Linked DNA regions of Homo sapiens. The protein of the gene in region 3 purifies or fractionates together with the protein of the main gene of each other region. This does not show direct contact. Each region holds a gene or a part of one and is shown on either strand. Other genes may lie near its edges. The genes, in order: NFIA, NOP14, SOX6 and TAF4.

Region 1 (6,334 bases), on a different chromosome or scaffold from region 3:
TATTCCTGTACACTCTCTGCCTTAGAACTACCATCTTTTGCACTACATTCCAGATAAAGGATTTTGTTACTACATTCTAGGTAAAGGATATTGTTACTATCCTCAAGTTACACAGAAAACACTCAAGGATGTAAAATCAATATTTATCTCAAATTTGTTGACTGCTACTGCTATCTTTTTTGAAGAATTAAAAGATAAATTAAAATTTCTAAAAATATGCCATATATCAATAATTTACAATAGCTTGATCAGCCAAAAAATCCACCTTGAGCTTAAAGCTAGAGTTTGATAGGGTGATCCTTACTCTCCTAATTTAAATATCACTGTATATTAGTTTTACAATATACAGTGTATATTGTGTATATTGTGTATACAATATACAGTGTATATTCTTTTTCCAAACACACTTTATTAATAATTACAAATCACAGGAAGTAACTGCACAACTTTCTACTAGGGTGTTTATTAAGTTACTGAAAAAGTTTAATTACAAAAACGTATAGTCCTAGATTTGAATGTAAACACACATACATGTAGCTGCTAAAAGAATATATTGAATATATTTTGGATATGCAATGTTGCCTCAAACTAATGTAGGAAGTTACCTAAAAATTAAAATAATTTTCATAATTAATTTGGCATAAAATTATAAACTGTAACAATCTAATGCGATTTATTTATAAAAATTATAATATTCTATATGCACTGAAAACCTTATCTGTATAATTACACTGTATTTAAAATACTAGCATTTCAAAAAAGAAATCATTCCCATTGCTCAAACAGCACTCTGTGCAGCCTGGATGTGCACGCACATGCACACGAAGCACACACACGCCCCTACACAGACACTCCTAATCTTACACCTGCTCTGAAGCAGTAGGAAGTGAATTCTCAATCTGTCAACATGACCATCTGGTCTATCTGCATATCACGGCTTTCTCTATTACTATATGAAGGAATGGCAATCACGAAGCCAAAATAAAACTAAAATGCACCTGAATGGGAGTAGCTCTCTTTTGGCTGAAATGGAATAATATGAGGTACAGCAGAACAAAACTAGCAAGAATCTAAATAATTTGAAATGAGCATTCATGTCAGCATAATTAAGTGAACAATATGGTACAGGTAATGTGGTAATCAGTAATACTGTTGAGTAGGTTTATAGGACAGGTATCAGGCTTCCGAGACACTGAAACAGCTCCTTCAGTGATTGAAAGGATCTTTGCTATTCCTGATGCAAGCAAAATTAAGTAAAGGTAATAATGGTAGCAGCATGGAAGCAATCAGTAACTACTGCACTAAAAGATTACCGTGCAAAAGTGTTCTCTTTCTACCTTAAAACTAACAAGTACTCATACTGCTGCCATTAGGACAACAGCAACTTGCTTTGTCACTGGCTAATTAACAATTAAAGCAATTACCTGACAAATTGTGGTCACTTATTAATCTTTCAAACTGAATTTTAAGACTGCTAAAAATACTTCTAATGTTAGAAAATTCCTCATCTGCAAAAAGTGAAGATGGCTCACTGTGATTTAGCTTTTAGGCCTAATGTCACTTGAAAATTAGCAAAGGCCTTAGTTGAATTAAACATAAATTAATTTGTTTAATTTTAGATTTTAAATGTCCCCACACAGCTGCCTCCAAGCTTTTATTCTACCCCATGGCAGGTAATAATATCAAATATAAATTGTGAAACTGTCATTCTATGGCCTAAAAATAGCAACCTGCCTCTATCCAAGAAATGAGTCCTTAAAAAGTATAACCTTTCACAAAATCTAACTAATTTGACTGAGAATCTTTCTAGAATCTGATTACATTACCAGAAGTTTATACAGAAGTGGTTAAAAAAAAAAAAACAACAACTCTCCAGAAACTTCTCGGTTGAGTGCCTACTAATGAACAAAGGTTAACTTTATCTAAAAGGTCAAATGCCTGGTGGCTAAGGTTATGACCTTAACAACTTAAATTGTGACCTTGCCACGTGCCGGGTATATTGTAGATTCTGATACAGATCATCTGGTAAAGACTGGTCATAAATTAGCTTTACTGTTACACACCCACAAAGAAAACCATTTGCCACAATACCATAGTATCCCCAAGTTGTCATATGATACATGGGAAGGACAACTCAAATTGAGACCAAATTAAGGGCATAAAATGGTTTTGTTCTTTTAACAAGATGAAATTCTCAGGCTTATGAAATCACTCCAATTTCATTACACTTGTTACTGCTTATCAGCCACAAAATTCACAGTTCTAATGCCACTGGATTTAGAGGGAAAAAACTGGAATGTAGTTTATGTATTATATTTTAGCATGTCAATAAGTCTTAGAATAAATCACCTCCGCTTTAAAAAAAAAAAGATTGATTCTGCATTTGCTTCTAGTATTCTCACGTATGTTCTGAGATTTCAACTTCCTACCAAAGAAAGGTGGACACATAAAGCAAGAATTATTACACACAAATTTCAGAAGGAAAAGAAGATCTAATTTCTATGACCATCTAGGGGGAAAAAAAGGCATTCTGGAAAGGAAAAAAATATAACAATTTAAAAGAAAGAGCGAGAAAAAACGCATTATAGGTGAAAAGGCCACAATGGTTTTGGCATGTATCTTGAAGCACGTTTCAGAGTCTCTGCCTCCTGCCAATACTGGCAAGTTCTCAAAACTTTTAAGGAGGTAAAAACATTGTTTAGTGTTTACAAATCTTCAGTATTATAACAGATGCTTGTCAAATCAGTTGTATGTAAGTTGACCGATCTACCTCATATTTGTATTGGCAGCTTCCCTTCCACAAATAACAGGTCTCTGAATCTCTTAAATCAAATTTGAAATATTTTCAGACAAAAGACCCTTAATATTTTCTTTTACAGTCTTCCTGTTGCGCGCACAGAGAAGCAGCCATTACTGCGGTCCCGTGAAAACCAATGGCCAAACATTTGGCTGGCATTCAGGCATAACAAGGGATTCTGGGATACATCAGGAAAACCAAACCGAAGAGTAGTCTGATCTATGCTGCTGTCAATAAATCTTTCATAAGCAATAAGGATGCTAACTCTCCTAAGTAACCTTCTAAATGTCATTTTACCAACATAACCCCTTCAGGCATTGCAACAACCAACAACTGTGTTAGTTCAAGGATTGGGAGCAATAGCACAGTAACAAACCAACGACGAAAAAGAAGGCACGTAATGAGAACAGCGAAAAGATTGCATTTCTTTAAATAACAGAGAAATGTTTAAGACGAAAACTTAGAATGGACACTGCTTACACCGACAAAAACTTCACAGGTATTTCATTTTGATGTTATCTTATATGGAAGCACACATCATGATCTGCATCACCTGTTGGCACTTTCAAGTTTCGATGTTGGTCATCTATTCGGGATAATTTATAGGTTATATTTTTCTAAATATCTAAAAGGTAAAAACAAGATTTTAAAGAGTGCTTCTTGAAAGCACCTGTAACACCTATACTTTTTTTGCGTTTTGCTGTGCTTAACATATGCAGACACATTTTTTAAAAATTTTAACTTTACTTTTTCAGTAAACAAAACAAATGAACAACAACAGGGTTAAGAGTGGGTTAAAAAAGGGCTACTTATTCCTGCTTAGAGGTCACTTGAGAGGTGCTGACTTTTCATTCTTGCTACCCAGAATTGGCTAAAGCAAAAGGCAATTCTTATAATTAAGTATACATTTTTGAAAACCCAAATATTTGAAACACTTACAGCTCACATCCTCTAAAATACTCATCTATCCCCTGCCAACAGAATGCAAATGATGATGTGACATGCTTGCAAAGCTAATTTCTCCAGTTTCTTATGTAAGGGCAGATGGATAACAAAAGTTCTCTTTCTAAAACATATATTGAGAAAAATAATAGAGAACAGGCTATCAGCTGGCTTCTTTAAAAACTCACTAACATTTTTAGAATTAAAAATGTTTTGAAGAAAAGTGCAGTGTTTTTACAGGTAACATCTCTCCTTTGTAAAAAAAAAAAAAAAAAAAGAAAAAAAAACGTTAAATATTTGAACCCCAAAACAACCTACTGGTAGGATTCCACAACCCTCTTTCTTCCATCTGGCTCAAGTAACTGCCATGAAGGTAATCTAGCAAGACCGATATGTACATATATAAAGTCAACAAGTTACACAAGACCTGAGCGTTCACATAGCACAATGAGCCTTTTGTCTAAAACAAGACGAAAGGAACAAAGTAAAAATGCATTATTTTATCCAGTCCTCAATAGTTTTATCCTGCATGCTATTCTAAACACTGAAACATGCACAGGTAAGACATGCCTTGAAAAAACAGAAAAAAAATTTAAGATTTTACAATCAAAGCAACTCACTACATCAATTATCAATAGCAATTTTTCAATGTGTTCATGCAATATACAGGTTGGTTATTTTTAATATTAACCTCTCCATCAATTACTGAAAGAGCTGGTTTGTTTCCCTTAGCTATCTGAGACAACACTAAGAATTCCTAAATACAAAGCTACTAAGTCTGCGTATTAATGTGATTATTTTTCCTTCCTAAATGATCAGCAATTTGATAGTAATCTACCTCCAACTTCTTAATTGGCAAGGGGTTCAAGAGGCCTCAGTAGGTTAAAAACACTCCCAGCAGAAAACCAACTAAAAATATTGCCTCAATACCAAAATAAATGCTTTTAAACTAGATCATTTGTCAGTTAAAATATACTCTTTATTAAAAGGGTTTTCACGAGGCTTCTCTCATCCCCTCATCAAAAAATGTGATTTAAACATATCACATATCTGATTACCAACGCCTCTGAAAACACTACTTACCAAAAGAGCTGAACTTAGTGAGAATTCGCTCAAAGCTATGCTTTTTCACCTGAATGAAGGTGGCACCTCTCTCAATCTTTGAAACCACACTGGCTTCATGTACGTGGCCTGCAACTTGGGGAGCTCAGGAAGAATCCGGCATAACGCGGAGGCCATCAGGAAAGAAACACACACAAGAAAGTGGGAGGAATTCTCACCATCGCACTTACCTGCTGCATGCACAAAGTATGCCAAATATAAATCGAGTTCCTTAACAGAAACCCCTATGTGATGGGGTTGGACACAGAGCCCTGGATTAGAGCATTGTGGGGACTTTACAAGGCGCTCGCCATCAGTACTTTCCAGCGGAATACCTTTAAACAAAATCACCATAACAAGGTCCAACCTCCAGACTTTATCTGCCTGGCGGAGGCAGTCAATTCTTCGCATCTTGCCTTTCTGGTCTGGGTTGGAAAGAACACAACATGGAGGTTTTTTCCCTGTAACTGTAAGAACAAAATCCTCTCGATATTCGGGTCGGATATCTTTCCGCAACTTTGCCAGAAGTCGAGATGCCCACTTCTGCTTGACCTCTGGTTTTTCACTTAGCAATTCATCCTTCACGGCTCTCTCTTCTTCTTTTGACATACGCTTTTCATGTTTTTTGAAGTATTTTCGTTTTCGGGCCTGCAGGTTGAACCATGTGTAGGCAAAGGCTCGGACGTGGGGCAGAAGTGCTTCGATGAAAGGATGAAATTCATCCTAGGAAAATGAACAAAAAGAAAAATATAAGTAGAATGAAAACAAAAGAAAACAACTTTTCTTCAGCGGGTCACCTTAAGAAAGAAATTCCTCATTTCACTTGAAATTTGATTAGAGCATTCTGTTACCAAAATCATACACAGGATCCTATGGGAAGTCTGGGAAGGTGGGAGAGAAAACTATCAGTATCATTTCTTATGATCGGAAATAAAAAAACTGCTGAAAATTAAAAAACTGTTTTAATATGTTCACCAGGGTACACCAGCTACTACTGTCGGGCCTAGCTCCCCATCCTTTAGATAGTAAGTGAAGTTTATCTAAATGCTTATAACAATGTATAATCTTAACCCTATTTCAAGGAAGGCATATCTAATTTTGTCCCAGCCTTGACCTCACCACTTGTAGTACAGCCAGGGCCCAGCCGCCAGATTGGCAAATCCTAAACATTTAGATGCCAGTCAATGTTTATGGAAGTCTAGGAGCAAAAAATCATCTCTACAATCAATGAAAACAAAGGCTTTCCCCCTAAAAATATTGCATGTAGATTCTGATATGTTTCTTACTCATTTTGCTAGTGTCTAAATTCCCCTTTTAAATATTATAACTACATATAATTTTTTTAGTCAAAAACTAGGACAAATTTGGGAGGTTCATATACAAAAGAAGGATTGAATTTGATATTTATTAGGCTAAAATAAAAGATCTATGCCCAAGACATAATTGCTAATACTATGGGAATGAAACAAAAAGGGGGAAGAAAGAGGAAAAAAA
Region 2 (3,898 bases), on a different chromosome or scaffold from region 3:
GGCCTGCTGGCCACAGACTTCCTGGGGCCTACTAGGCACACATGGGGCTGATGAGGCGCTCAGGCCACATCCGGGAACAGACTGAAGTCCCTGCCCCTGTCGGGGAGACAGGCAGTGCACAGCACCCAGAGGAGCAAATGGACCAGACAGAACACGAGAAAGGAAAGTGGAGGGGCAGGAGGGAGACAGGAGAGTCAGTCGGGGGTGACGGTGGAGGGCGGGAGAGGCCTGAGGGGCAGACGTCAGCAAAGGCCTGTAGGACGCAGGAGTCAATTCACTCGCCACGGAGAAGGGCAATCCAGGCCGAGGGTGTGGCTACACGGGGAGGGGTGGAGAGTGGGTACAGTGGGGCAGAGGTGCCGGGCCAAGCGAGAGGGGAAGGCGTGGGTCAGGCCCCGCCCCACACTTCCCCAAAGCCGAGATGCCCACCCCTTCCTTGACTCCACCTGTGCCCAGCCTGTTCCGTCACAGCCCTTCACACGTGGGACTGCAGCTATCTACAGGTGGCTCTCCCGGAGGCAGGGAGCATGTGGGCGGCCGCGCCCCTCTGGCGCCCAGCACCGAGCCTGACAGACAGGAGCCTTGGGAGGCAGGTGGTGGCAGAATGGGAGCACTGAACCGGAAGAGTGGGCCAGACCCCTCTTGGAAGGGACTCTGCTGGTGGTGTGAATGATGCCACAGCACCTGCTCCTCAGGTCAGTCCCCTGGACATGCAGGCGCTTAGCACTGCACGGTGAGCTGGAAATAGAGGACAGGGGTCTGAGCCTTGAGGTCCAACCTCTGGTCAGGCTGGGAGAGGCGTCCACAGACATGGAAGAGCTCAGGAAGAGGCTGTGCAGCTCCTCACCCCCCAGAGGGAAGCAGCAAGTGCTGAGGAAGCATCCAGGAGCAGGGCTGGCATCAGGGGAAGGGGGAGGAGCACAGGGGCTGGGGTGAGGGCCCAGGAGGGCAGCCAGTGTGCAGACTGCTCCTCATCCCAACACTGCTCTTGCCGCCCTCGCTCCTGAATTCAGAGCGTTAAGAGAAGCGACACAGCAGCGCGGCCTGTGTGAGCTGCACGAGAACTTTCACACTGCCTTGTCGTCACGTGAGAAAAAGTAAAAAGTTAAGATTGATTTTAACAATAGACCTTATCTAACCCCAAATACCAAAATATTATGATTTTAACACATAATACAAAAAATTAAGATATTTTAAGTATTTCTGACACTAAGTCTTCGCCACTTGGGCATATGTCACAGGTAGGGTACGTCTCAGTTCAGACTCTGGCCCCTGGCAACCACGCTGGACAGCACAGGTCACCGGTAGCACTGCTTTTCCCCATGTGGCGCGTGCACACGCTCACACAGAGGGACAGACAGTGCGGCGGGTGGCAGGTTGTGTGTTTCCTCTACTTTCGCATATTCTAAACTTTCTACAATGAGTATGAACTACTTAAAAAAATTCTAAAGTATAACATATTTGTAGGAACCTCCCTCAAATCAACTCACCTTGGCTTGCTTTGTTTGGAGTTGCTATGTAAAGAATCCCAAGAAGAAAATTAATAAGCTCAGGTATAAACCTCTGGGACAAAGCCACATACTCCAGGAACAGGCAGCACACGAACAGGCCCTTCACCACGTCCTGGAGGGACAGGATGGGGCACTGGAAAGGAACATATGGGGGGTTACTGTCCTGGGACGATGTCATGCCATGCTAGGCCGACCACCGGGCTTCCCTGATGAACCACGCACCCCACTGAGCTTCACAAGTACAGAGGGAACCCCCGCACCTTATAGCAGTGTCGAGAGCATCAAATGAGATGAAAACAAGATAAAGAGCTTTAGTGATTTTTTTTTCCCGAGACGGAGTTTCACTCTTACCACCCAGGCTGGAGTGCAATGGCACAATCTCGGCTCACTGCAACCTCCACCTCCCGGGTTCAAGTGATTTTCCTGCCTCAGTCTCCCGAGTAGCTGGGATTACAGGCATGTGGCACCACACCCAGCTAATTTTTGTATTTTTAGTAGAGACGGGGTTTCGCCATGTTGGCCACACTGGTCTTGAACTCCCGACCTCAGGTGATCCGCCCGCCTCAGCCTCCGAAAGTGCTGGGATTACAGGCGTGAGCCACCGCGCCTGGCCAGAGCTATACTGATTATAAAGTTCCTTCCACCCATACAGAGCGTACGATTACTGCACTAAGCATGTACCAATCACATGCCTAATAAAGAAAAAGGAACAGCTTGAACTTTTTAAGCCAAAAAGGGAACAAAAGCCCTTATCATCACACTGGATAACTTCACCACTAACTTGAAAGGTTGTTTTCTGGGGTAGCACCATCTGTAACCTTGAGGTGCCAAACCAGGCCCTCCCACTCCCACCCACATCTGGGGCTGCTCGAGCCGGGGCTCTTTTAGATGGGCCCTCTTTGGCCTAACCGCAGTGCTCGGTCTCTGCAGCCCTTAAACAGCCACACTCATGTTCCACAAGGCCCCGAGGGGCTGTGGCTCCGGCCACCCGTGGTGCAGCAGGCCGACCCCTGCCGCATGTGGAGAGAACGCACCTTGGTGAGCAGCTGACTGAGGCACACGAGGGCAGGGGTCACCACTGGGTGCCAGAAGTCGGAAGTTGGAAATAGCAGCCCAGTGATTTTCAAATAAATGAGCTGGAAAGAAAGTGTTACCACAGGTTAAAGAAGGTAAATGAAGTCCATCCATATGCCCTCCCCGCAAACACTCCGGAGCCAAGAACAGGATCTGGCGAGGAGAGGGTGCATCTCCTTGGCCCAGAGCTCTGGCCTCAGTGTCACAGAACAGGCGTCCAACCACCGTGGGTCAACCAGCTAAACGTGCAGTGAGGACACTGAGGCCCATGAAGACTTCAAAGCAGTCAACAATGGTTATAGACACGGGCTCAGATCATGTTTTGGGGAGTTGATTAAAAATCACTAACCTAAGTCCTACATTTTTAAGCTTCTGCTAACTATTGTGAATCCATTTCAACACAAACACCAGGCAACAGAATAAAGAGCGTATCTCAGCAAGTATTTCCTTAAAGTTACTAAAGCTGAAAATACAGCATGAGGCTGTTATAAAATTGTTAAAAATCTCAGCGTACAAATGTCTCCCAACCTTTGAATAACATAGAAACCGAGACCAATTTAAACCAGCCCACAGGCTTGGGCCCTTAAGGACAATACCGTGGTTCTATTTGCCTTCCAATGTTTTTGTCACTGGACCAAATACAGCACCATTCACGTGGAATCAAACCAGAATCTCCCTGCACGACCCACACGTTAGTCCATGGCTAGTGGAGGAGTGCCCTCCCCTCCCAGGCTCGCTGCCGTGCACTCTCACTCCAGATCACCCTCACTGCCGTGCACTCTCACTCCAGATCACCCTCACTGCCGTGCACTCTCACTCCAGATCACCCTCACTGCCGTGCACTCTCACTCCAGATCACCCTCACTGCCGTGCACTCTCACTCCAGATCACCCTCACTGCCGTGCACTCTCACTCCAGATCACCCTCACTGCCGTGCACTCTCACTCCAGATCACCCTCGCTGCCGTGCACTCACTCCAGATCACCCTCACTGCCGTGCACTCTCCAGATCACCCTCACTGCCGTGCACTCTCCAGATCACCCTCACTGCCGTGCACTCTCACTCCAGATCACCCTCACTGCCGTGCACTCTCACTCCAGATCACCCTCGCTGCCGTGCAGCTCACTCCACATCACCCTGGAAGCACAGGGTACAGCCAAGAGCATCGTACCCGTCGTCCACCTTCTGTGATGCCAAACAGAACTTCTGTGGCAGGGGCAGTGCCTAGACTGAACTCTGCTTACCACATCCAACCCTGGCAATGCCGCCCGGCCTTTGGTCTCAATCATTTCTTCCATCTCATGCATCGCATC
Region 3 (6,334 bases):
TCAATTTCAAAGTCAAAATTCAAACACTGCAGATTTCACAAACAGGAATAGCTGGCAGGTATTGGGCTTTACAAATAATGAATGTGCACATCAAAACAACATTTGTGGATGTTTGTAAAAGTATATACATGAGTTGATATGAACAGAGATATTTAAGAACCCTTCCTCCCAGTCTAAGTAAAGAGTAAAAGCTGGCCCTGATAGAGCCCACCATTGCTACATGACTTCCAAATTACAGGAATATTTCTGGAGTGTAATCTAGCTTTGCCAATTACAAAGTAACTACATATTTATGCTGGCAAAGCCCCATTGTTTGCTGACCCTTCAGACCCTTCAAAGTGTATAAATAAAGACAAGGAAGTTTGTTTCATTAGGAGATAAGCCTATACGTCACATATCTCTGTAGCTGATACTGCAGGAAGGAACAGAAATAATAATAATCTGTTCACTTTACCTATTGAATGTTCTAATCCAGGGTCTTTACAGGAGGACAATACTTAAAAAAGCATGGCTAATCTATGCTAATGTAATTGTATTTTATAGGTGTCTTAAATAGGATTGATTCGACCTCTTTAAAATTAAGATTAAAATGCAAATGTTCAAATCACTTATAGTACAAGGCACTAAAATAATTATTGTAATATAACATAGAATATATACTTGGCACACAGTATTATTTTTCTAGAATAATAATATTTACTTGAATTTAAAGCTTTTCATATGCCAGGCAATGTTCTAAGCACTTTACAAACAGTAAGTTACTCAGGCTTCAAGAAGAGTCCTGCATATGTCATTGGTATTGTCATTCTCATTCTACATATGAAGAAACTGGTTAGAGAGAGATTAAATGTTTCCCAAGGGCAAGGGGAGAGTTCAGAGGAATAAAGATTGCCATGTATTAGTTCCTACAGCCAAGAAGGTGCAGATCTAGTATTTGAGCCAGACTAGTCTGACTCCAGAATTGATGCTCTTAACCACAATGCTATACCGCCTCTGTGTGTGTAATGTCGTGTCCTTACCAATGTCCTTTGGTAAAAGGGACATATGTTTCACATTCACATAAGCCTGGTTTACATCTCAGCTCGGCCATTTACTAGCTGTGTGGCCCTACACAAATTATTTAACATCTCTGAATATTGCATTTTTCAATTTAATAGTGAGAATGATATTCCCTATCTTGTAAATTTGTTGTATTTGCAATAATCTGTATAATCCACTCAGCAGAGTACACAGCACACAGTAAGTATTCAATAATCTATCTTTATCATTGCTAAAAAAGTAGCCCCAAATTTAATATTTTATAGTAGTTTTACATCTGTATCATGGGGGATTGGTTCCAGGACCCCCACAGATAACAAAATCTGAGGATGCTCAAGTCCCTTTTATAAAGTGGTATAGTATTTGCATATAACCTACACACATCCCCTATATACTTTAAACAATCTCATTATTTATAATAGCTAATACAATATAAATGTTATGTAAACACTTGTTATGCTGAATTGTTTAGGAAATAAACGCAAGAAAAAAAAAGTCTGTAGATGTTCCATACAGATGCAACCACTGTAGACCTAACTACATAGTGTACTTTAGCAATAATGTAACATTTTCTCGAATTTTTTTAAAAAATATTTTTGATCCACAATTGGTTGAATCCACACAGATACAGAGGGCTGAATGTACCTGCATAATTCTCTATGAGTTCATAGGTAAATTACCAAATAAGTTTCAAATAAATGGAAGTATATTCGGTCACAGTTCTTTGGGAAGACGTCATTGTAGCTACATGTACCCTAATGAATATTCCCTCTACATTAATAGTAGAGGGAATATTCTGGACACCACACTCAGAATTGGTAAGGGCCTATTTGAAACCAGCTATGTGTCCAACACTTTATTAAATTAGTATAGTAAATGAGGCATTATTTCTGTACACATGAGTTTCAGAGAATTCTGTAGTTGGAGAAGCCAGATACATACAAACAAATATACAAAGCCAGATACATACATGAATAGATTAGCATATAATAGTGTGTTATACCCACACATACACACACACATTTATTATCTTGAATAATCCAGATAATAATCTTATCCAGATTATTACAACATTCTGATACTTACTCTGCGAACTGAAGAGGTTAAAACCAAGGCAAGGGCTAACATTGCTCCCTTCCATATTATTGATAAATTCATTTCATAATAGCTAAGTAATAAAAAAAACTAACTCATCAGCCACAGTTGTGTAGTCAGTAAAATGCATGAAAATGTTGAGCAGTATATGCACTTTTATTGGCTTGAAAGTTATGCATGTCTTTTCAAAATCAGCTATAAAAATTGATCTGAACCCATTCCATCAAAACGTCAATAGAAATATTTGAATTTTTGTTTGTTTTTTGCTCAACTCTTGTAATAACCTCATATGTAATAAAGATCAATTTCCAAAGAAAAACTTCAGGAAATTAATAATCTATCAACTACAACTACTTAAAAGAGAATACAAATCCTTAAGCAGAAATAACACCTGGCTCTACATAGCAAGTATTATCAAAGCTGGGCAGAGGAAAATGCTCAGCATTGAGATGAAAGAATAAGACATTCTGATCATTGCCTGCACTTCAGTAGCCCTATTCTGCAGTCTAAAATGATCCTTCCATAAAGGACTGTTCTACACTATTGAGAACAGGATACTTAGTCTCTAAATTTCAAAGTTCTTTTTATGTACCATATACCACAAGCAGAGACTTCATTTTCTCCAAGTGCTAAGAGCTCTTGCTCAGATGGCATAGCCACACTCATGACTGCCAGCATAGGGCTATGAGGCATATTTTGAGACAAAGTAGTAAAGACAGTTCCTCAGTCATTTGGCATGATGGGGGCCAATACCTGAATTTGAACCTTTGCTCTTTATCACCTTTCTGTAGCCATAGAAACTCTCTAAAACTCAACTTCTTTATCTTATTTAGAGAATTATGTGACTTATATATCTAAAATCCTAGTATACACTAGATAGTCAATAAATAATAGATGTTATTAAATTGTTTTAGTTTTTTATTTTTACATGCATTGGTACATGTTGTGGTATTTTGATCTAGAGCTGTTTTAATGTACCCTTTAGTAAAGGGAACTAAATTCAATAGTATTACTGCAACTCATATTTTCAAATAAGTATTACACCAAGGTATTAAAACAGCACCTTTAGTAGCCTTCCAGACTGGCGGAACAGCCCCACTATGTATCACTACATACACAGGGAACATGACTGAGGGAGGGCAGGAATCACAAGAGGTCCCAAACTTAAACTTTGGATTGTTCAAAAGAGATTATACACAATCTTAGAGGTGTACTAACGGGATTAAAAGAGAATGTTTATCACATAATCTTAAAGTGGACTATGAATTAGTATTTTTCATAAATCCTCTAATTATCAGCTGAATAGCCCAATTATACCACATTGCCCTTTTTAGCGTTAAACGCATTACCTTTAAAAATGCAAACATTTATAATACAGAGGAATTTGATAATCCTATTTTGTCATGTCTTCATTTATTAACATACTGGGATCTTTTATAATAAAGTGGCTTAAGCTTCTCTCTACCTCTAAAAGGTTCTGCCATGGTATAAAGAAATTCACTGATCATCTGGTGTGATATAAAATATGGTTTTCTGTGATAGGAAATACATATTAAATAGTAATGATAATGCTAGAGTTCACCTTTATTGATATCGTATTAAGCACTATATAAAGTACTTTTAAAAGCGTTGCCTCATTGGATCTTCTCAACAATCATACAAGATAGTTTCCACTATTCATTTCATTTTACACATGAGAAAACAAAAGTTAGAGAAGTTTAATAACTTGCCCAGGTAGGTGGCACAGTCAGTATGTGAACCCCAGAAGTCAAACTCCAAAGCCCACGCTCCTCCCGAAAACACTGCAGTGTATTGCACAGATTCATGACCCAGACTACGTTCATTGGCTTTGTTTTCTTACTCTATTTACTATTCCTTTTAAACACATGCTCTGAAAACAACTTTTTGTTCCACAGGGTTACCTCTTGAGTGCCCTTAAAAGTGAATAGCTCTTGGCTTCTCCTTTAAGGTACCTCTTTTTCTACCTTCAAGTGAAGCTCTCTTAGTTTCCTGGCACAGCACAGCTCCTCAATTCTCCTCCAACTTCACAGCAAATGCAACTTCCCTCTTGCTTACTCTGCTTCTCTCTCTCAAGCTCTTTCCCAAGTGTTTCCCTACTCTGAGTCCAGCTGCTTCAGGTCTGTGCCTCAAATGGCCCTCTGGATTTGCCACCCTGCTGTGCTTCTAGGTCTGGGTATGCTGGAATCTACAGTCATCTGCATCCCCACTTATCCTGACTACTGTGGTTATGAGGGGCCTCTTTTGAATGCAGACAGCCAGTCAGCCAAGTTGAAATTTATACCAGAAATCTATTACCTAATTTTTAAACAAAATGACATGAAATCAGACTTGAAGATATCAAAAGCATGTCTAGTTTCTGATTTAAGCAAGAAAATACACATTGTTACTGCTCCCACCACAGAATAATTTACTGCAACAGGAGTTCTGGATCTTATGCCAAAAATGAGGTCCTCTAACCAATGTCGAGGCCAATTATCTTGTGGTAGATCCCACAACAAAAGCAGACTATTGTGATTAGAGTCAGAAGCACCACCCAGAGAAGCTGGAAAGCTTATGGGGATTTCTTAAGGTTAGTTTTTATTTTTCCTCCCTGTGTATCTGCTTAAATAAACTACCAGAAACTCTGTGTGTGGCCACTGAGCATCTTAAATTGGCTTGGGAGACAATGACAGGGGTGATCAGCTGGGAGTGAACTGTTCCAGGTTTGGCTTGATTTGAGCAAAAGCCATGGTGCAAGGCAGTGCCCCTATGACACAGCAAAGATTCTCATGGCCAAGCCCCTTCAGTATGCCACAACCTCCTCTTTCCCTAATCTCCTTCCCAAACATACTGCCAGTAGCCATCCTATAGTTACTTACCGCAAAAGTAAAGCCCAGGTGGCTAAATTCAGGAATACTTACCCCACAGTAAAGAACTGCCTCATCTCCTGTCTCCGAGACCTCATCAGTTGCTTATACTCCCCAATCCGAAGCTTTTTGCCATCAACAATGCAGGTGCGTTTCGGTCGGGGTTTGTATTTATAGTTTGGGTACTTCTCTAAGTGGATCTTGCTTAGCCGGGCCTGCTCTTCATAATAAGGTTGCTTCTCCTGGTTGGACATTGATTTCCAGCGAGATCCTAGAAATAAAAATAGCCTTAAGTACCCAAGTGGTCAAGGCAACATATTCTAGGCAAACACAACTAGATATACCTTCCCATCACTTCACTCATCTGTGCGCTGGGTGGCTCCAATTCCCACATACCACTGGCTGTCCCAACTATACTTTTAGTCTATAACACAAAGAACAATTTTGCGTATGATACTTTCTTGTGTTATTTATCTCAATAGTTTAAGACTGATGCTACTATAGTATTTTAAAATATATCTTTGCTGCTTAAAGATCATTGCCTACACCAAGGTCTTTCCCCATCCACCTGCCTACCCTCTCAACAGGGATAAAAGGCTAAACCTCCTAAGCATACTTTTGAGCATGACAGGATTCTCAGGAAAAGCTTTGTTTGTCCTAGAAATTCAAACATCTCCCAAACTCCAAGTATCTTTAGTGAAACTATCCTTTGACAAGATGTCAGCAGATGTTGAAATCATTCCATATATAAAAAACTACTGTGCACAAGTCTGCCATGGCCTAGGTAATTAAAAAACCTAAGCTCTACCTAAGAAGTTATAGCTTTAGAACCGGAAGATACCATTGGAATTATATATACCATTTTCAAGTACTATAAACGCTCATTCAAAGCTGTACCAATAAAAGTACAAAAATTTTAATACGGTTTATACAGGAAGAAGGATAAGTATTCACTTCTCTAATATTGTTTATAAAGAATTATCTAAACACTTGATGAAGAGGGGATGTGTTTTTTTACATGTATCAAATTGCATTTTTGTGTCTCGCTGGTGAATAAAGCGGTAACAGCTGTGCAGACTGGATGTTAGCGATTCTTCAGTGGAGATTTTTCATACATAAACAAATGGAAAAGTTGTACAAATATTCTCTGCAGCCAGCAATATCCTAGTCTGCTTTAATAGCACATGCATCCCTGCTCTTTCCTGATTGTTGTTCAAAAGTTGTGTAGAAGGCCTAAGCAGATAGGCTTCTCTGTGTTCTGCTGGTTTCCAGCAGCTTAAAGCCCCAATTAACGAAGAATTCTTGGTGCTCTTGAAACGCTTGCACTTAAAACT
Region 4 (6,334 bases), on a different chromosome or scaffold from region 3:
CGGGCCACCCTGACGCCCACCGTGCTGGCCCCCCGCTTGCCGCAGCCGCCTCAGAACCCGACCAACATCCAGAACTTCCAGCTGCCCCCAGGTGAGTGGCCGCACGGGGCGGGAGGGAAGGGCGGCTCCCAGCAGCGCCAGCTGCCAGTTCCAGGAAGTTCTCCGCTGGTGGAATGCTAAGGTCATCTGTCCCGTAGGCCCGTGGCTGGAGCAGGCCGAGGGGCAGTCTCTACCCAGGTGCGGGGCCAGCCCGGGTGGCTGTCTGCGAGTGAGCCAGAGGGAGTCGGCATAGCCTGCGTCCCTGTCGCTGTCCCTGACGTCCGCGCTGGCTGCCTGTGCCTGGGGCTGGTCTGTTTCGGAGTGGCTCAGCCAGGACTCTTAGTGGAGTGGTCCTTACCTGCTCCCGCCCTATGCGTCCCTGCCCGGGTTGGTAGGCTCAGCGCAGGGGCTCCCTGGGCCAGGCGATGGGGTCTGCAGAGCTGAGGGCAGTACCTGGGGCTGTGAGTGGCAGCAGCTGTCCCCTGCTCAGTTCTGCAGTTAGGCGTGTGGCCTGTGTCCCCACTTAGCCTTTCTGCCCCTTGGTGACCCTGGGCTCGAGCCTCTTCAGTCTCCAGGCGAGGACGGGGGCGCGACGCCCCCTCCTTGAGGCTCGGGAACTCTGGATGGAAGGCTTGGGCTCCTCTGCTGCCACCAGGCAGGGAGAGATGTCAGGCGCATCCTGCGAGAGTCCTCCCGGCGCGCAGCCTTGCTGAGAGCCACGCTGTGGAGTAGGGTTTCAGCACCGTGTGTGTCACTGTCTCTTCCAGAGCTGCGTTGGTGCCTAAAGGAAGGAGCGCCTAGCTACTCTGGTTGCTGCCCCCTCGGGAGGGCAGTGGGAGGGCGGTGGCAGCAGATGTTCTCGCTCCGTGCAGGGGTCTCGGGGCGATACTGGCTATGCTGCGGATGCCTGGGGCTCCGACGCCACTTCCGCCTGGCAGTTCTCACGCTCCTGTCTAGTCTGCTGTCTCTGCGACTCCTCAGGGCCCCTCAAGTTTGACAGGAAAGATTGCCTGGCCAGCATTGCTGCTTTTGTCTGGGGCTCCCCGTCCCTCCCCAGCCGCCGTGGTGGGTGCTGGGCAGGGGAGCTCCTCCCCGGCCTGTGGTGACGCGTGCCGTGCAGTTGTAGCAGCGCGGTGGCAGCAGTAGTAGGAACTGCAAGGAGAGCGTGGGTCCCTCCTGCGTCCCCTCTCTGAATGGAGCTATTGGTCACTTTGACAGGGTTGCAGAATCTTCAGAAGTGAAAGGATTTCTTGTCCAAGTATGTGAGGTTCGGGGCTGGTGGTCAGACTCTGGACAGGGCAGGGGTGGGGAAAGCCTGTCTGGGCGGCTGCTAGGCTGCAGTGCTCCAGGGAGGAAGAGAGCTGTGAAGCTACTTCCCGGGGTTGCTGAGACGCCCTTTACGACAAGCTTTTGGGGTACTGAAGCGTTTGTAGGGGTGTTTTGCCAGAGGCTTGGTTTTGCTGTTATGTGTATGTTGACCTTTTAGTAGGAAACGTGGCTGATCTTTAGTAACGTTGTAAAAAGATGTTTGATGGCTGTGATCTATTATGTAAACTGTCACAATGCTTTATTTATAAAAATGTTTTTCCAGAGGTCCCACGTGTCTCAGCGCAGGCCAGGTGCCTGTTGCACCCCTTTGGGTAGGTATTGGACTCTGTCTTGTGGGGCTGGCCAGGTCCTCTTGCTCTGAGCCACTGCAGAGGTAAAGCCTCATCTGTCTCTTTCTTCTGGGAGGAGGTGAAGGAATACGTGGTTGGAAGAGGGCATCTCTGCTGTGTTTATCATGAGTGATCCTGGGACTCACTTCCATCTTCTGTTTTAAGATCAGTTTTAGGGTCGGGTGTGTTTGATGAAGAGACAACTTGAAAAACAACTGTAGGAGTGTTGACTGTGCGTGATTCCTGTGTGTGAGGACAGAGGAACAGCTCACACAGACGTTTGGGTGGCAGTGCTGAGAGCGGTGCTTTCAAGGAGCCGAATGCTACTATCTAAAAAAGTGAGAGATTTACCCCATCTCTTCATGGCCTCCTGCAGTTGATCTACTGATGAGGAATTTTGATTATGTTATTTGTTTCAATAATAACCAAAGCAAAAAAAAAAAGTATCAATAAAACTACCAGTATCCCAAACCAGAGTACCTTCTTTTGAACAGTACAACTTAATTCTGTAAATCAGAATGGCAAATTGCAAATACTCTGGTTACTTCCTGTAATCGATTGATCAGAGAATATTAAATTGTTCTAGTTGGTTCCGTTTTCATTGAAATATTTCGTAATAAAAATGTTTAGAACAAAGATGGAAGTAACTTATAAAAATAACTCTTGCTTGGTTAATAACTCATTCTCATTACAACTCAGTCTTGCAAACTGAGGAGGAGCCGGGAGTATTAGGGGTGGGCAGGGTTCTCAAAGCTGCATGTGGGTGTCAAGTGGAGTAGCAGACGGGTGGCAATTGGATGGGGTGTGAAAGGGCCTGCCCTTCCCAGCCTTCCCTCCGTGGAGGTCTTGGGTGGGAGAAGGGAGGGGACAGAGGTTTCACCCTGAAGTCTTTAAGGCTAAGCCTTAGGCCCGAGTGTTTCAGCCCCATAGTGCACACCGGGTATGTTGAATTTGGTTTAGGTAGCTGTCATGATATTCTTTGTCAGGACAGTGTTGTAAAGACAGTTATGTTAATGTAATTGTAATTTGCTGGTTTGAGGTGCCAGAGTTTAGATTTTATTCACTGAGGAAAAATGAGAAAACTCAGTCTTTAGTGAGATTGTTGCAGATGACACAGTTGTCCCAAGATCACGGAAAAGCACTAGTTATGTACAGCTTAGGATAGTCATAACGTCATAGTCAGGTTGTGATTACAGCTGAAAGAAGAAAAAGGTGATTTGACACCCACATTAGCATGTTGGTAAATTGTTGAGAGATCTTTTCAGATCGGTGTAAGGTAAAGAAGCTCATTTCTAAAGGTTATCTTTTGGCCTGGCAAATTCACATTTTCTTCAGTGTATCTTGGTCTATTGTGCTTTCATGCAGAATTTACTCTCCTTTTGCTCTAAGATTTGGCCCAAGTGTAGATTCCCATTCCAGGACAGAAAAGCACTTTCTCACCATGGGCCTTGATCCCTTGGCCTAGGGGGCGTGTGCTTGCTGCATGTTTTAGGATGAGTACTCCCAGGTGAATGTGTGTCTGTGGGTGCTGTCTGGAGCATTGGTTCCCATCTGTGGGGAAAGGGGGAAAATGTCCACTAGCCCTTAATCGCGCTGTTGGGACGGGTTGGATTTGGCGAGTCCAGGCCCATGCTGGGTGGCGGCATGCAGACGGCCACCCCTGAGGTTGCAGGAGCTGTGAGTTCTGGTGGCCAGTGGTGGCAGCCAGTGCTCTGGCACAAGGGACATTCCTAAAAGTTTAGATTTTGTGACTTGAGGGCCCTGTTGCCGTTTGACCTGGGAGGAATATGTTGTTCCTCGGAGCCTTGGCTTACCCAGCTGTAAAGTGGGGTTGCCCTTTTGGTGAAGAATGTGAATTCTGTCAGGTTGGGCCAGATAACATAGCTGTCAGGTGGCGCTCACTATTCCAAACTCTCCCAGTTCCCCTCATTTTTCACTGATTTTCACACATTAATCCAGACTGGATGTTTTCTCAGTGACTGAGGTGTTTGGTGTGGCAGCTGACTGGTTCTGTCAATGGGGAAGTTACCGAGGTCTGAGGTGGGTCACCCTGGGGCGGTGGTTGCCAACATAGGGGAGGGTTGCAGTGGCCTTTGGAGGCCTGGACCTGGGTGGAGGGCTCACTTTAGGCTAGAGGCCTTAATCTGGTGTTTCTTTTGACATACTCAGGTAGGAGTGACATTTGAAAAGAACAAAGAAAAAGAACTTTTGGGGAGCTGTGTAAAGACAGCCCTGGACAGCTCTGCCTAGCATAGGGCAAGGGCGCCGCTCTGGGTCTTCCCTTCCTCCCTGCCCCCTGCCCCGCGGCTGGGGTCGTCACCATCGCCTTCGGGATGAACAGAGTCATCTTGGTGACAGGTTGGGATGGACCTCACCTGCCTTTGGTGTCTCAGAGCTGGTGACCCTCATGGCTTAGTGGCAGCCAGGAGTCGGGGTCCTGTGACGCTCTTAGGAGCCTCTCTCCTCACTGCTTACTGTGCCCGAGCACTGCATTCACAGCAGAGGTCTATGAGTTTGAACAGAGGATGACGTTTGAAGTTCGTTACGGTTGCCCTGGTTCTTAGGGCCTGTGAGAAGCTTTGTAGGAGAGGGTGTCCCGCTTGCTTCTGTGGCAAATGGACCTGAGGCAGGCCCCGGGCGCCTGGGAAGTTGGCCTTCTCCCAGGGCAGAGAGCAGAGCCACCCTGGCTTCCAGGACTGCCCCCGGGCTCCCCGGTGTGCTGTGGAAGTTGCCCCTTAGACATCAGCACAGGGAGGCCGGGAGGCGGCGTCTGGTCAGAGCAGCACAGACCGGGCTCAGCAGAACAGACTGGTGGGCGTGTCCGCATCCCGAAATCAGAGTGGAATGGAGACAGTTCCTGTTCTACCTCCAAAGCCTTTTCTACTGTATAATGTGAGTTTTCTTCCACTTAAGGGATAAATTTGAAGAAAGCTTTTATAAATTGTTGGTTGTAAGTGAGTTGATCAAAGCATAATTAGCAGCTGTGTTTGAGGATCTTGAAGCAGAGGTGTAACAGGGCTCTGGAGAAGCTTGCCTGAGATTTGGGGTAATTTGCAGGGTTCCCGAAGTGCTTTGCTTTTCTTCTTCATGGTGCTCAGTAGGAACCTCCAAGCCCTCGATCATCCAGGAAACAGTTGCTGTTTAGGGTGTTCACCTGTGGTGCCCGGCTCAGGCAGCGTGATGGGGGCGTTTACTTAATCAGGCCTTTGATAGCAATAAAGCAGTTAAATAAAGGGGGCTTTTGGCTGCAGGCCCTTCTGTGCCGAGTGCTGTGCACCTGGGCTTCCTGGACGCTTCTGCTTCCAGGTGGGCCTGCGGTTGCTATGGCATTGTGGTGTCAGCTGCAAACACGTACACAGCTGTTCTTTCCAATTCTTGCGTGGAATAATGAAGTAGAATAAGTGCTGTCAAGTTATGTTCGAAAATGGGGTGCTTAATATTTCCATGGTTGGACCATGAAAGTTTTGAGTGAAAACTTTTGATTTTTACATATCTCAAATGAACATTTGCACCAAAGATGTACAGCTTTCGAAAAACAAAGAGATACATGTTGTCCACCATGAGGCCCCTCTCCCATTTGAGAAAGTACCTGGTGTCCGCTGTTGGTCAGTCCGCGGTGGTCCCAGGCTCTTCTCCAGGCCTGCCTTCTGCCTGGAGCAGGCCATGCTGCAGTGTGCAGGATGATGTAGTGAAGTGCCCCCAGCTTCTCCCACCGTGGGTGTCATGTTGTGGAGCAGAAGTTGTCGTTGGGAACCGCGTGTGAGGGCAGGAGAAATTGTTTGTTGGGAGCCGCATGTGGGGACAGGAGAAGTTGTCTGTTGGGGACTGTGTTTGGGGACTGGAGAGGTTGGCCCCCCGAGCCCCATTGTCTGTGGCCTGGTGTGTAGACCTGTGTCCGTCCTTCCTGAGGTCTTGCTGAGGTTGGCCCCCGAGCCCCATTGTCTGTGGCCTGGTGTGTAGACCTGTGTCCGTCCTTCCTGAGGTCTTGCTGAGGTTGGCCCCCGAGCCCCATTGTCTGTGGCCTGGTGTGTAGACCTGTGTCCGTCCTTCCTGAGGTCTTGCTGAGGTTGGCCCCCGAGCCCCATTGTCTGTGGCCTGGTGTGTAGGCCTGTGTCCGTCCTTCCTGAGGTCTTGCTGAGGTTGGCCCCCCGAGCCCCATTGTCTGTGGCCTGGTGTGTAGGCCTGTGTCCGTCCTTCCTGAGGTCTTGCTGAGGTTGGCCCCCCGAGCCCCATTGTCTGTGGCCTGGTGTGTAGACCTGTGTCCGTCCTTCCTGAGGTCTTGCTGAGGTTGGCCCCCGAGCCCCATTGTCTGTGGCCTGGTGTGTAGACCTGTGTCCGTCCTTCCTGAGGTCTTGCTGAGGTTGGCCCCCGAGCCCCATTGTCTGTGGCCTGGTGTGTAGACCTGTGTCCGTCCTTCCTGAGGTCTTGCTGAGGTTGGCCCCCCGAGCCCCATTGTCTGTGGCCTGGTGTGTAGACCTGTGTCCGTCCTTCCTGAGGTCTTGCTGAGGTTGGCCCCCCGAGCCCCATTGTCTGTGGCCTGGTGTGTAGACCTGTGTCCGTCCTTCCTGAGGTCTTGCTGAGGTTGGCCCCCGAGCCCCATTGTCTGTGGCCTGGTGTGTAGGCCTGTGTCCGTCCTT

What was found.
Region 1: the proteins of SOX6 (region 3) and NFIA purify together in Homo sapiens (co-immunoprecipitation; one large-scale study listed by IntAct). This does not show direct contact.
Region 2: the proteins of SOX6 (region 3) and NOP14 purify together in Homo sapiens (affinity purification with mass spectrometry; one large-scale study listed by BioGRID and IntAct). This does not show direct contact.
Region 4: the proteins of SOX6 (region 3) and TAF4 purify together in Homo sapiens (affinity purification with mass spectrometry, with the first as the bait; one study listed by BioGRID). This does not show direct contact.

What each region holds. Positions count from the first base shown.
Region 1 is NC_000001.11:61,087,378-61,093,711, reverse strand, and holds part of NFIA (nuclear factor 1 A-type), read right to left. Parts: intron 5,564-6,334; coding exon 5,032-5,563; intron 1-5,031.
Region 2 is NC_000004.12:2,942,583-2,946,480, forward strand, and holds part of NOP14 (nucleolar protein 14), read right to left. Parts: coding exon 3,830-3,898; intron 2,648-3,829; coding exon 2,546-2,647; intron 1,645-2,545; coding exon 1,491-1,644; intron 1-1,490. UniProt on the Homo sapiens protein: Involved in nucleolar processing of pre-18S ribosomal RNA. Has a role in the nuclear export of 40S pre-ribosomal subunit to the cytoplasm.
Region 3 is NC_000011.10:15,981,150-15,987,483, forward strand, and holds part of SOX6 (transcription factor SOX-6), read right to left. Parts: intron 5,272-6,334; coding exon 5,055-5,271; intron 1-5,054. UniProt on the Homo sapiens protein: Transcription factor that plays a key role in several developmental processes, including neurogenesis, chondrocytes differentiation and cartilage formation.
Region 4 is NC_000020.11:62,058,208-62,064,541, reverse strand, and holds part of TAF4 (transcription initiation factor TFIID subunit 4), read left to right. Parts: coding exon 1-91; intron 92-6,334. UniProt on the Homo sapiens protein: The TFIID basal transcription factor complex plays a major role in the initiation of RNA polymerase II (Pol II)-dependent transcription.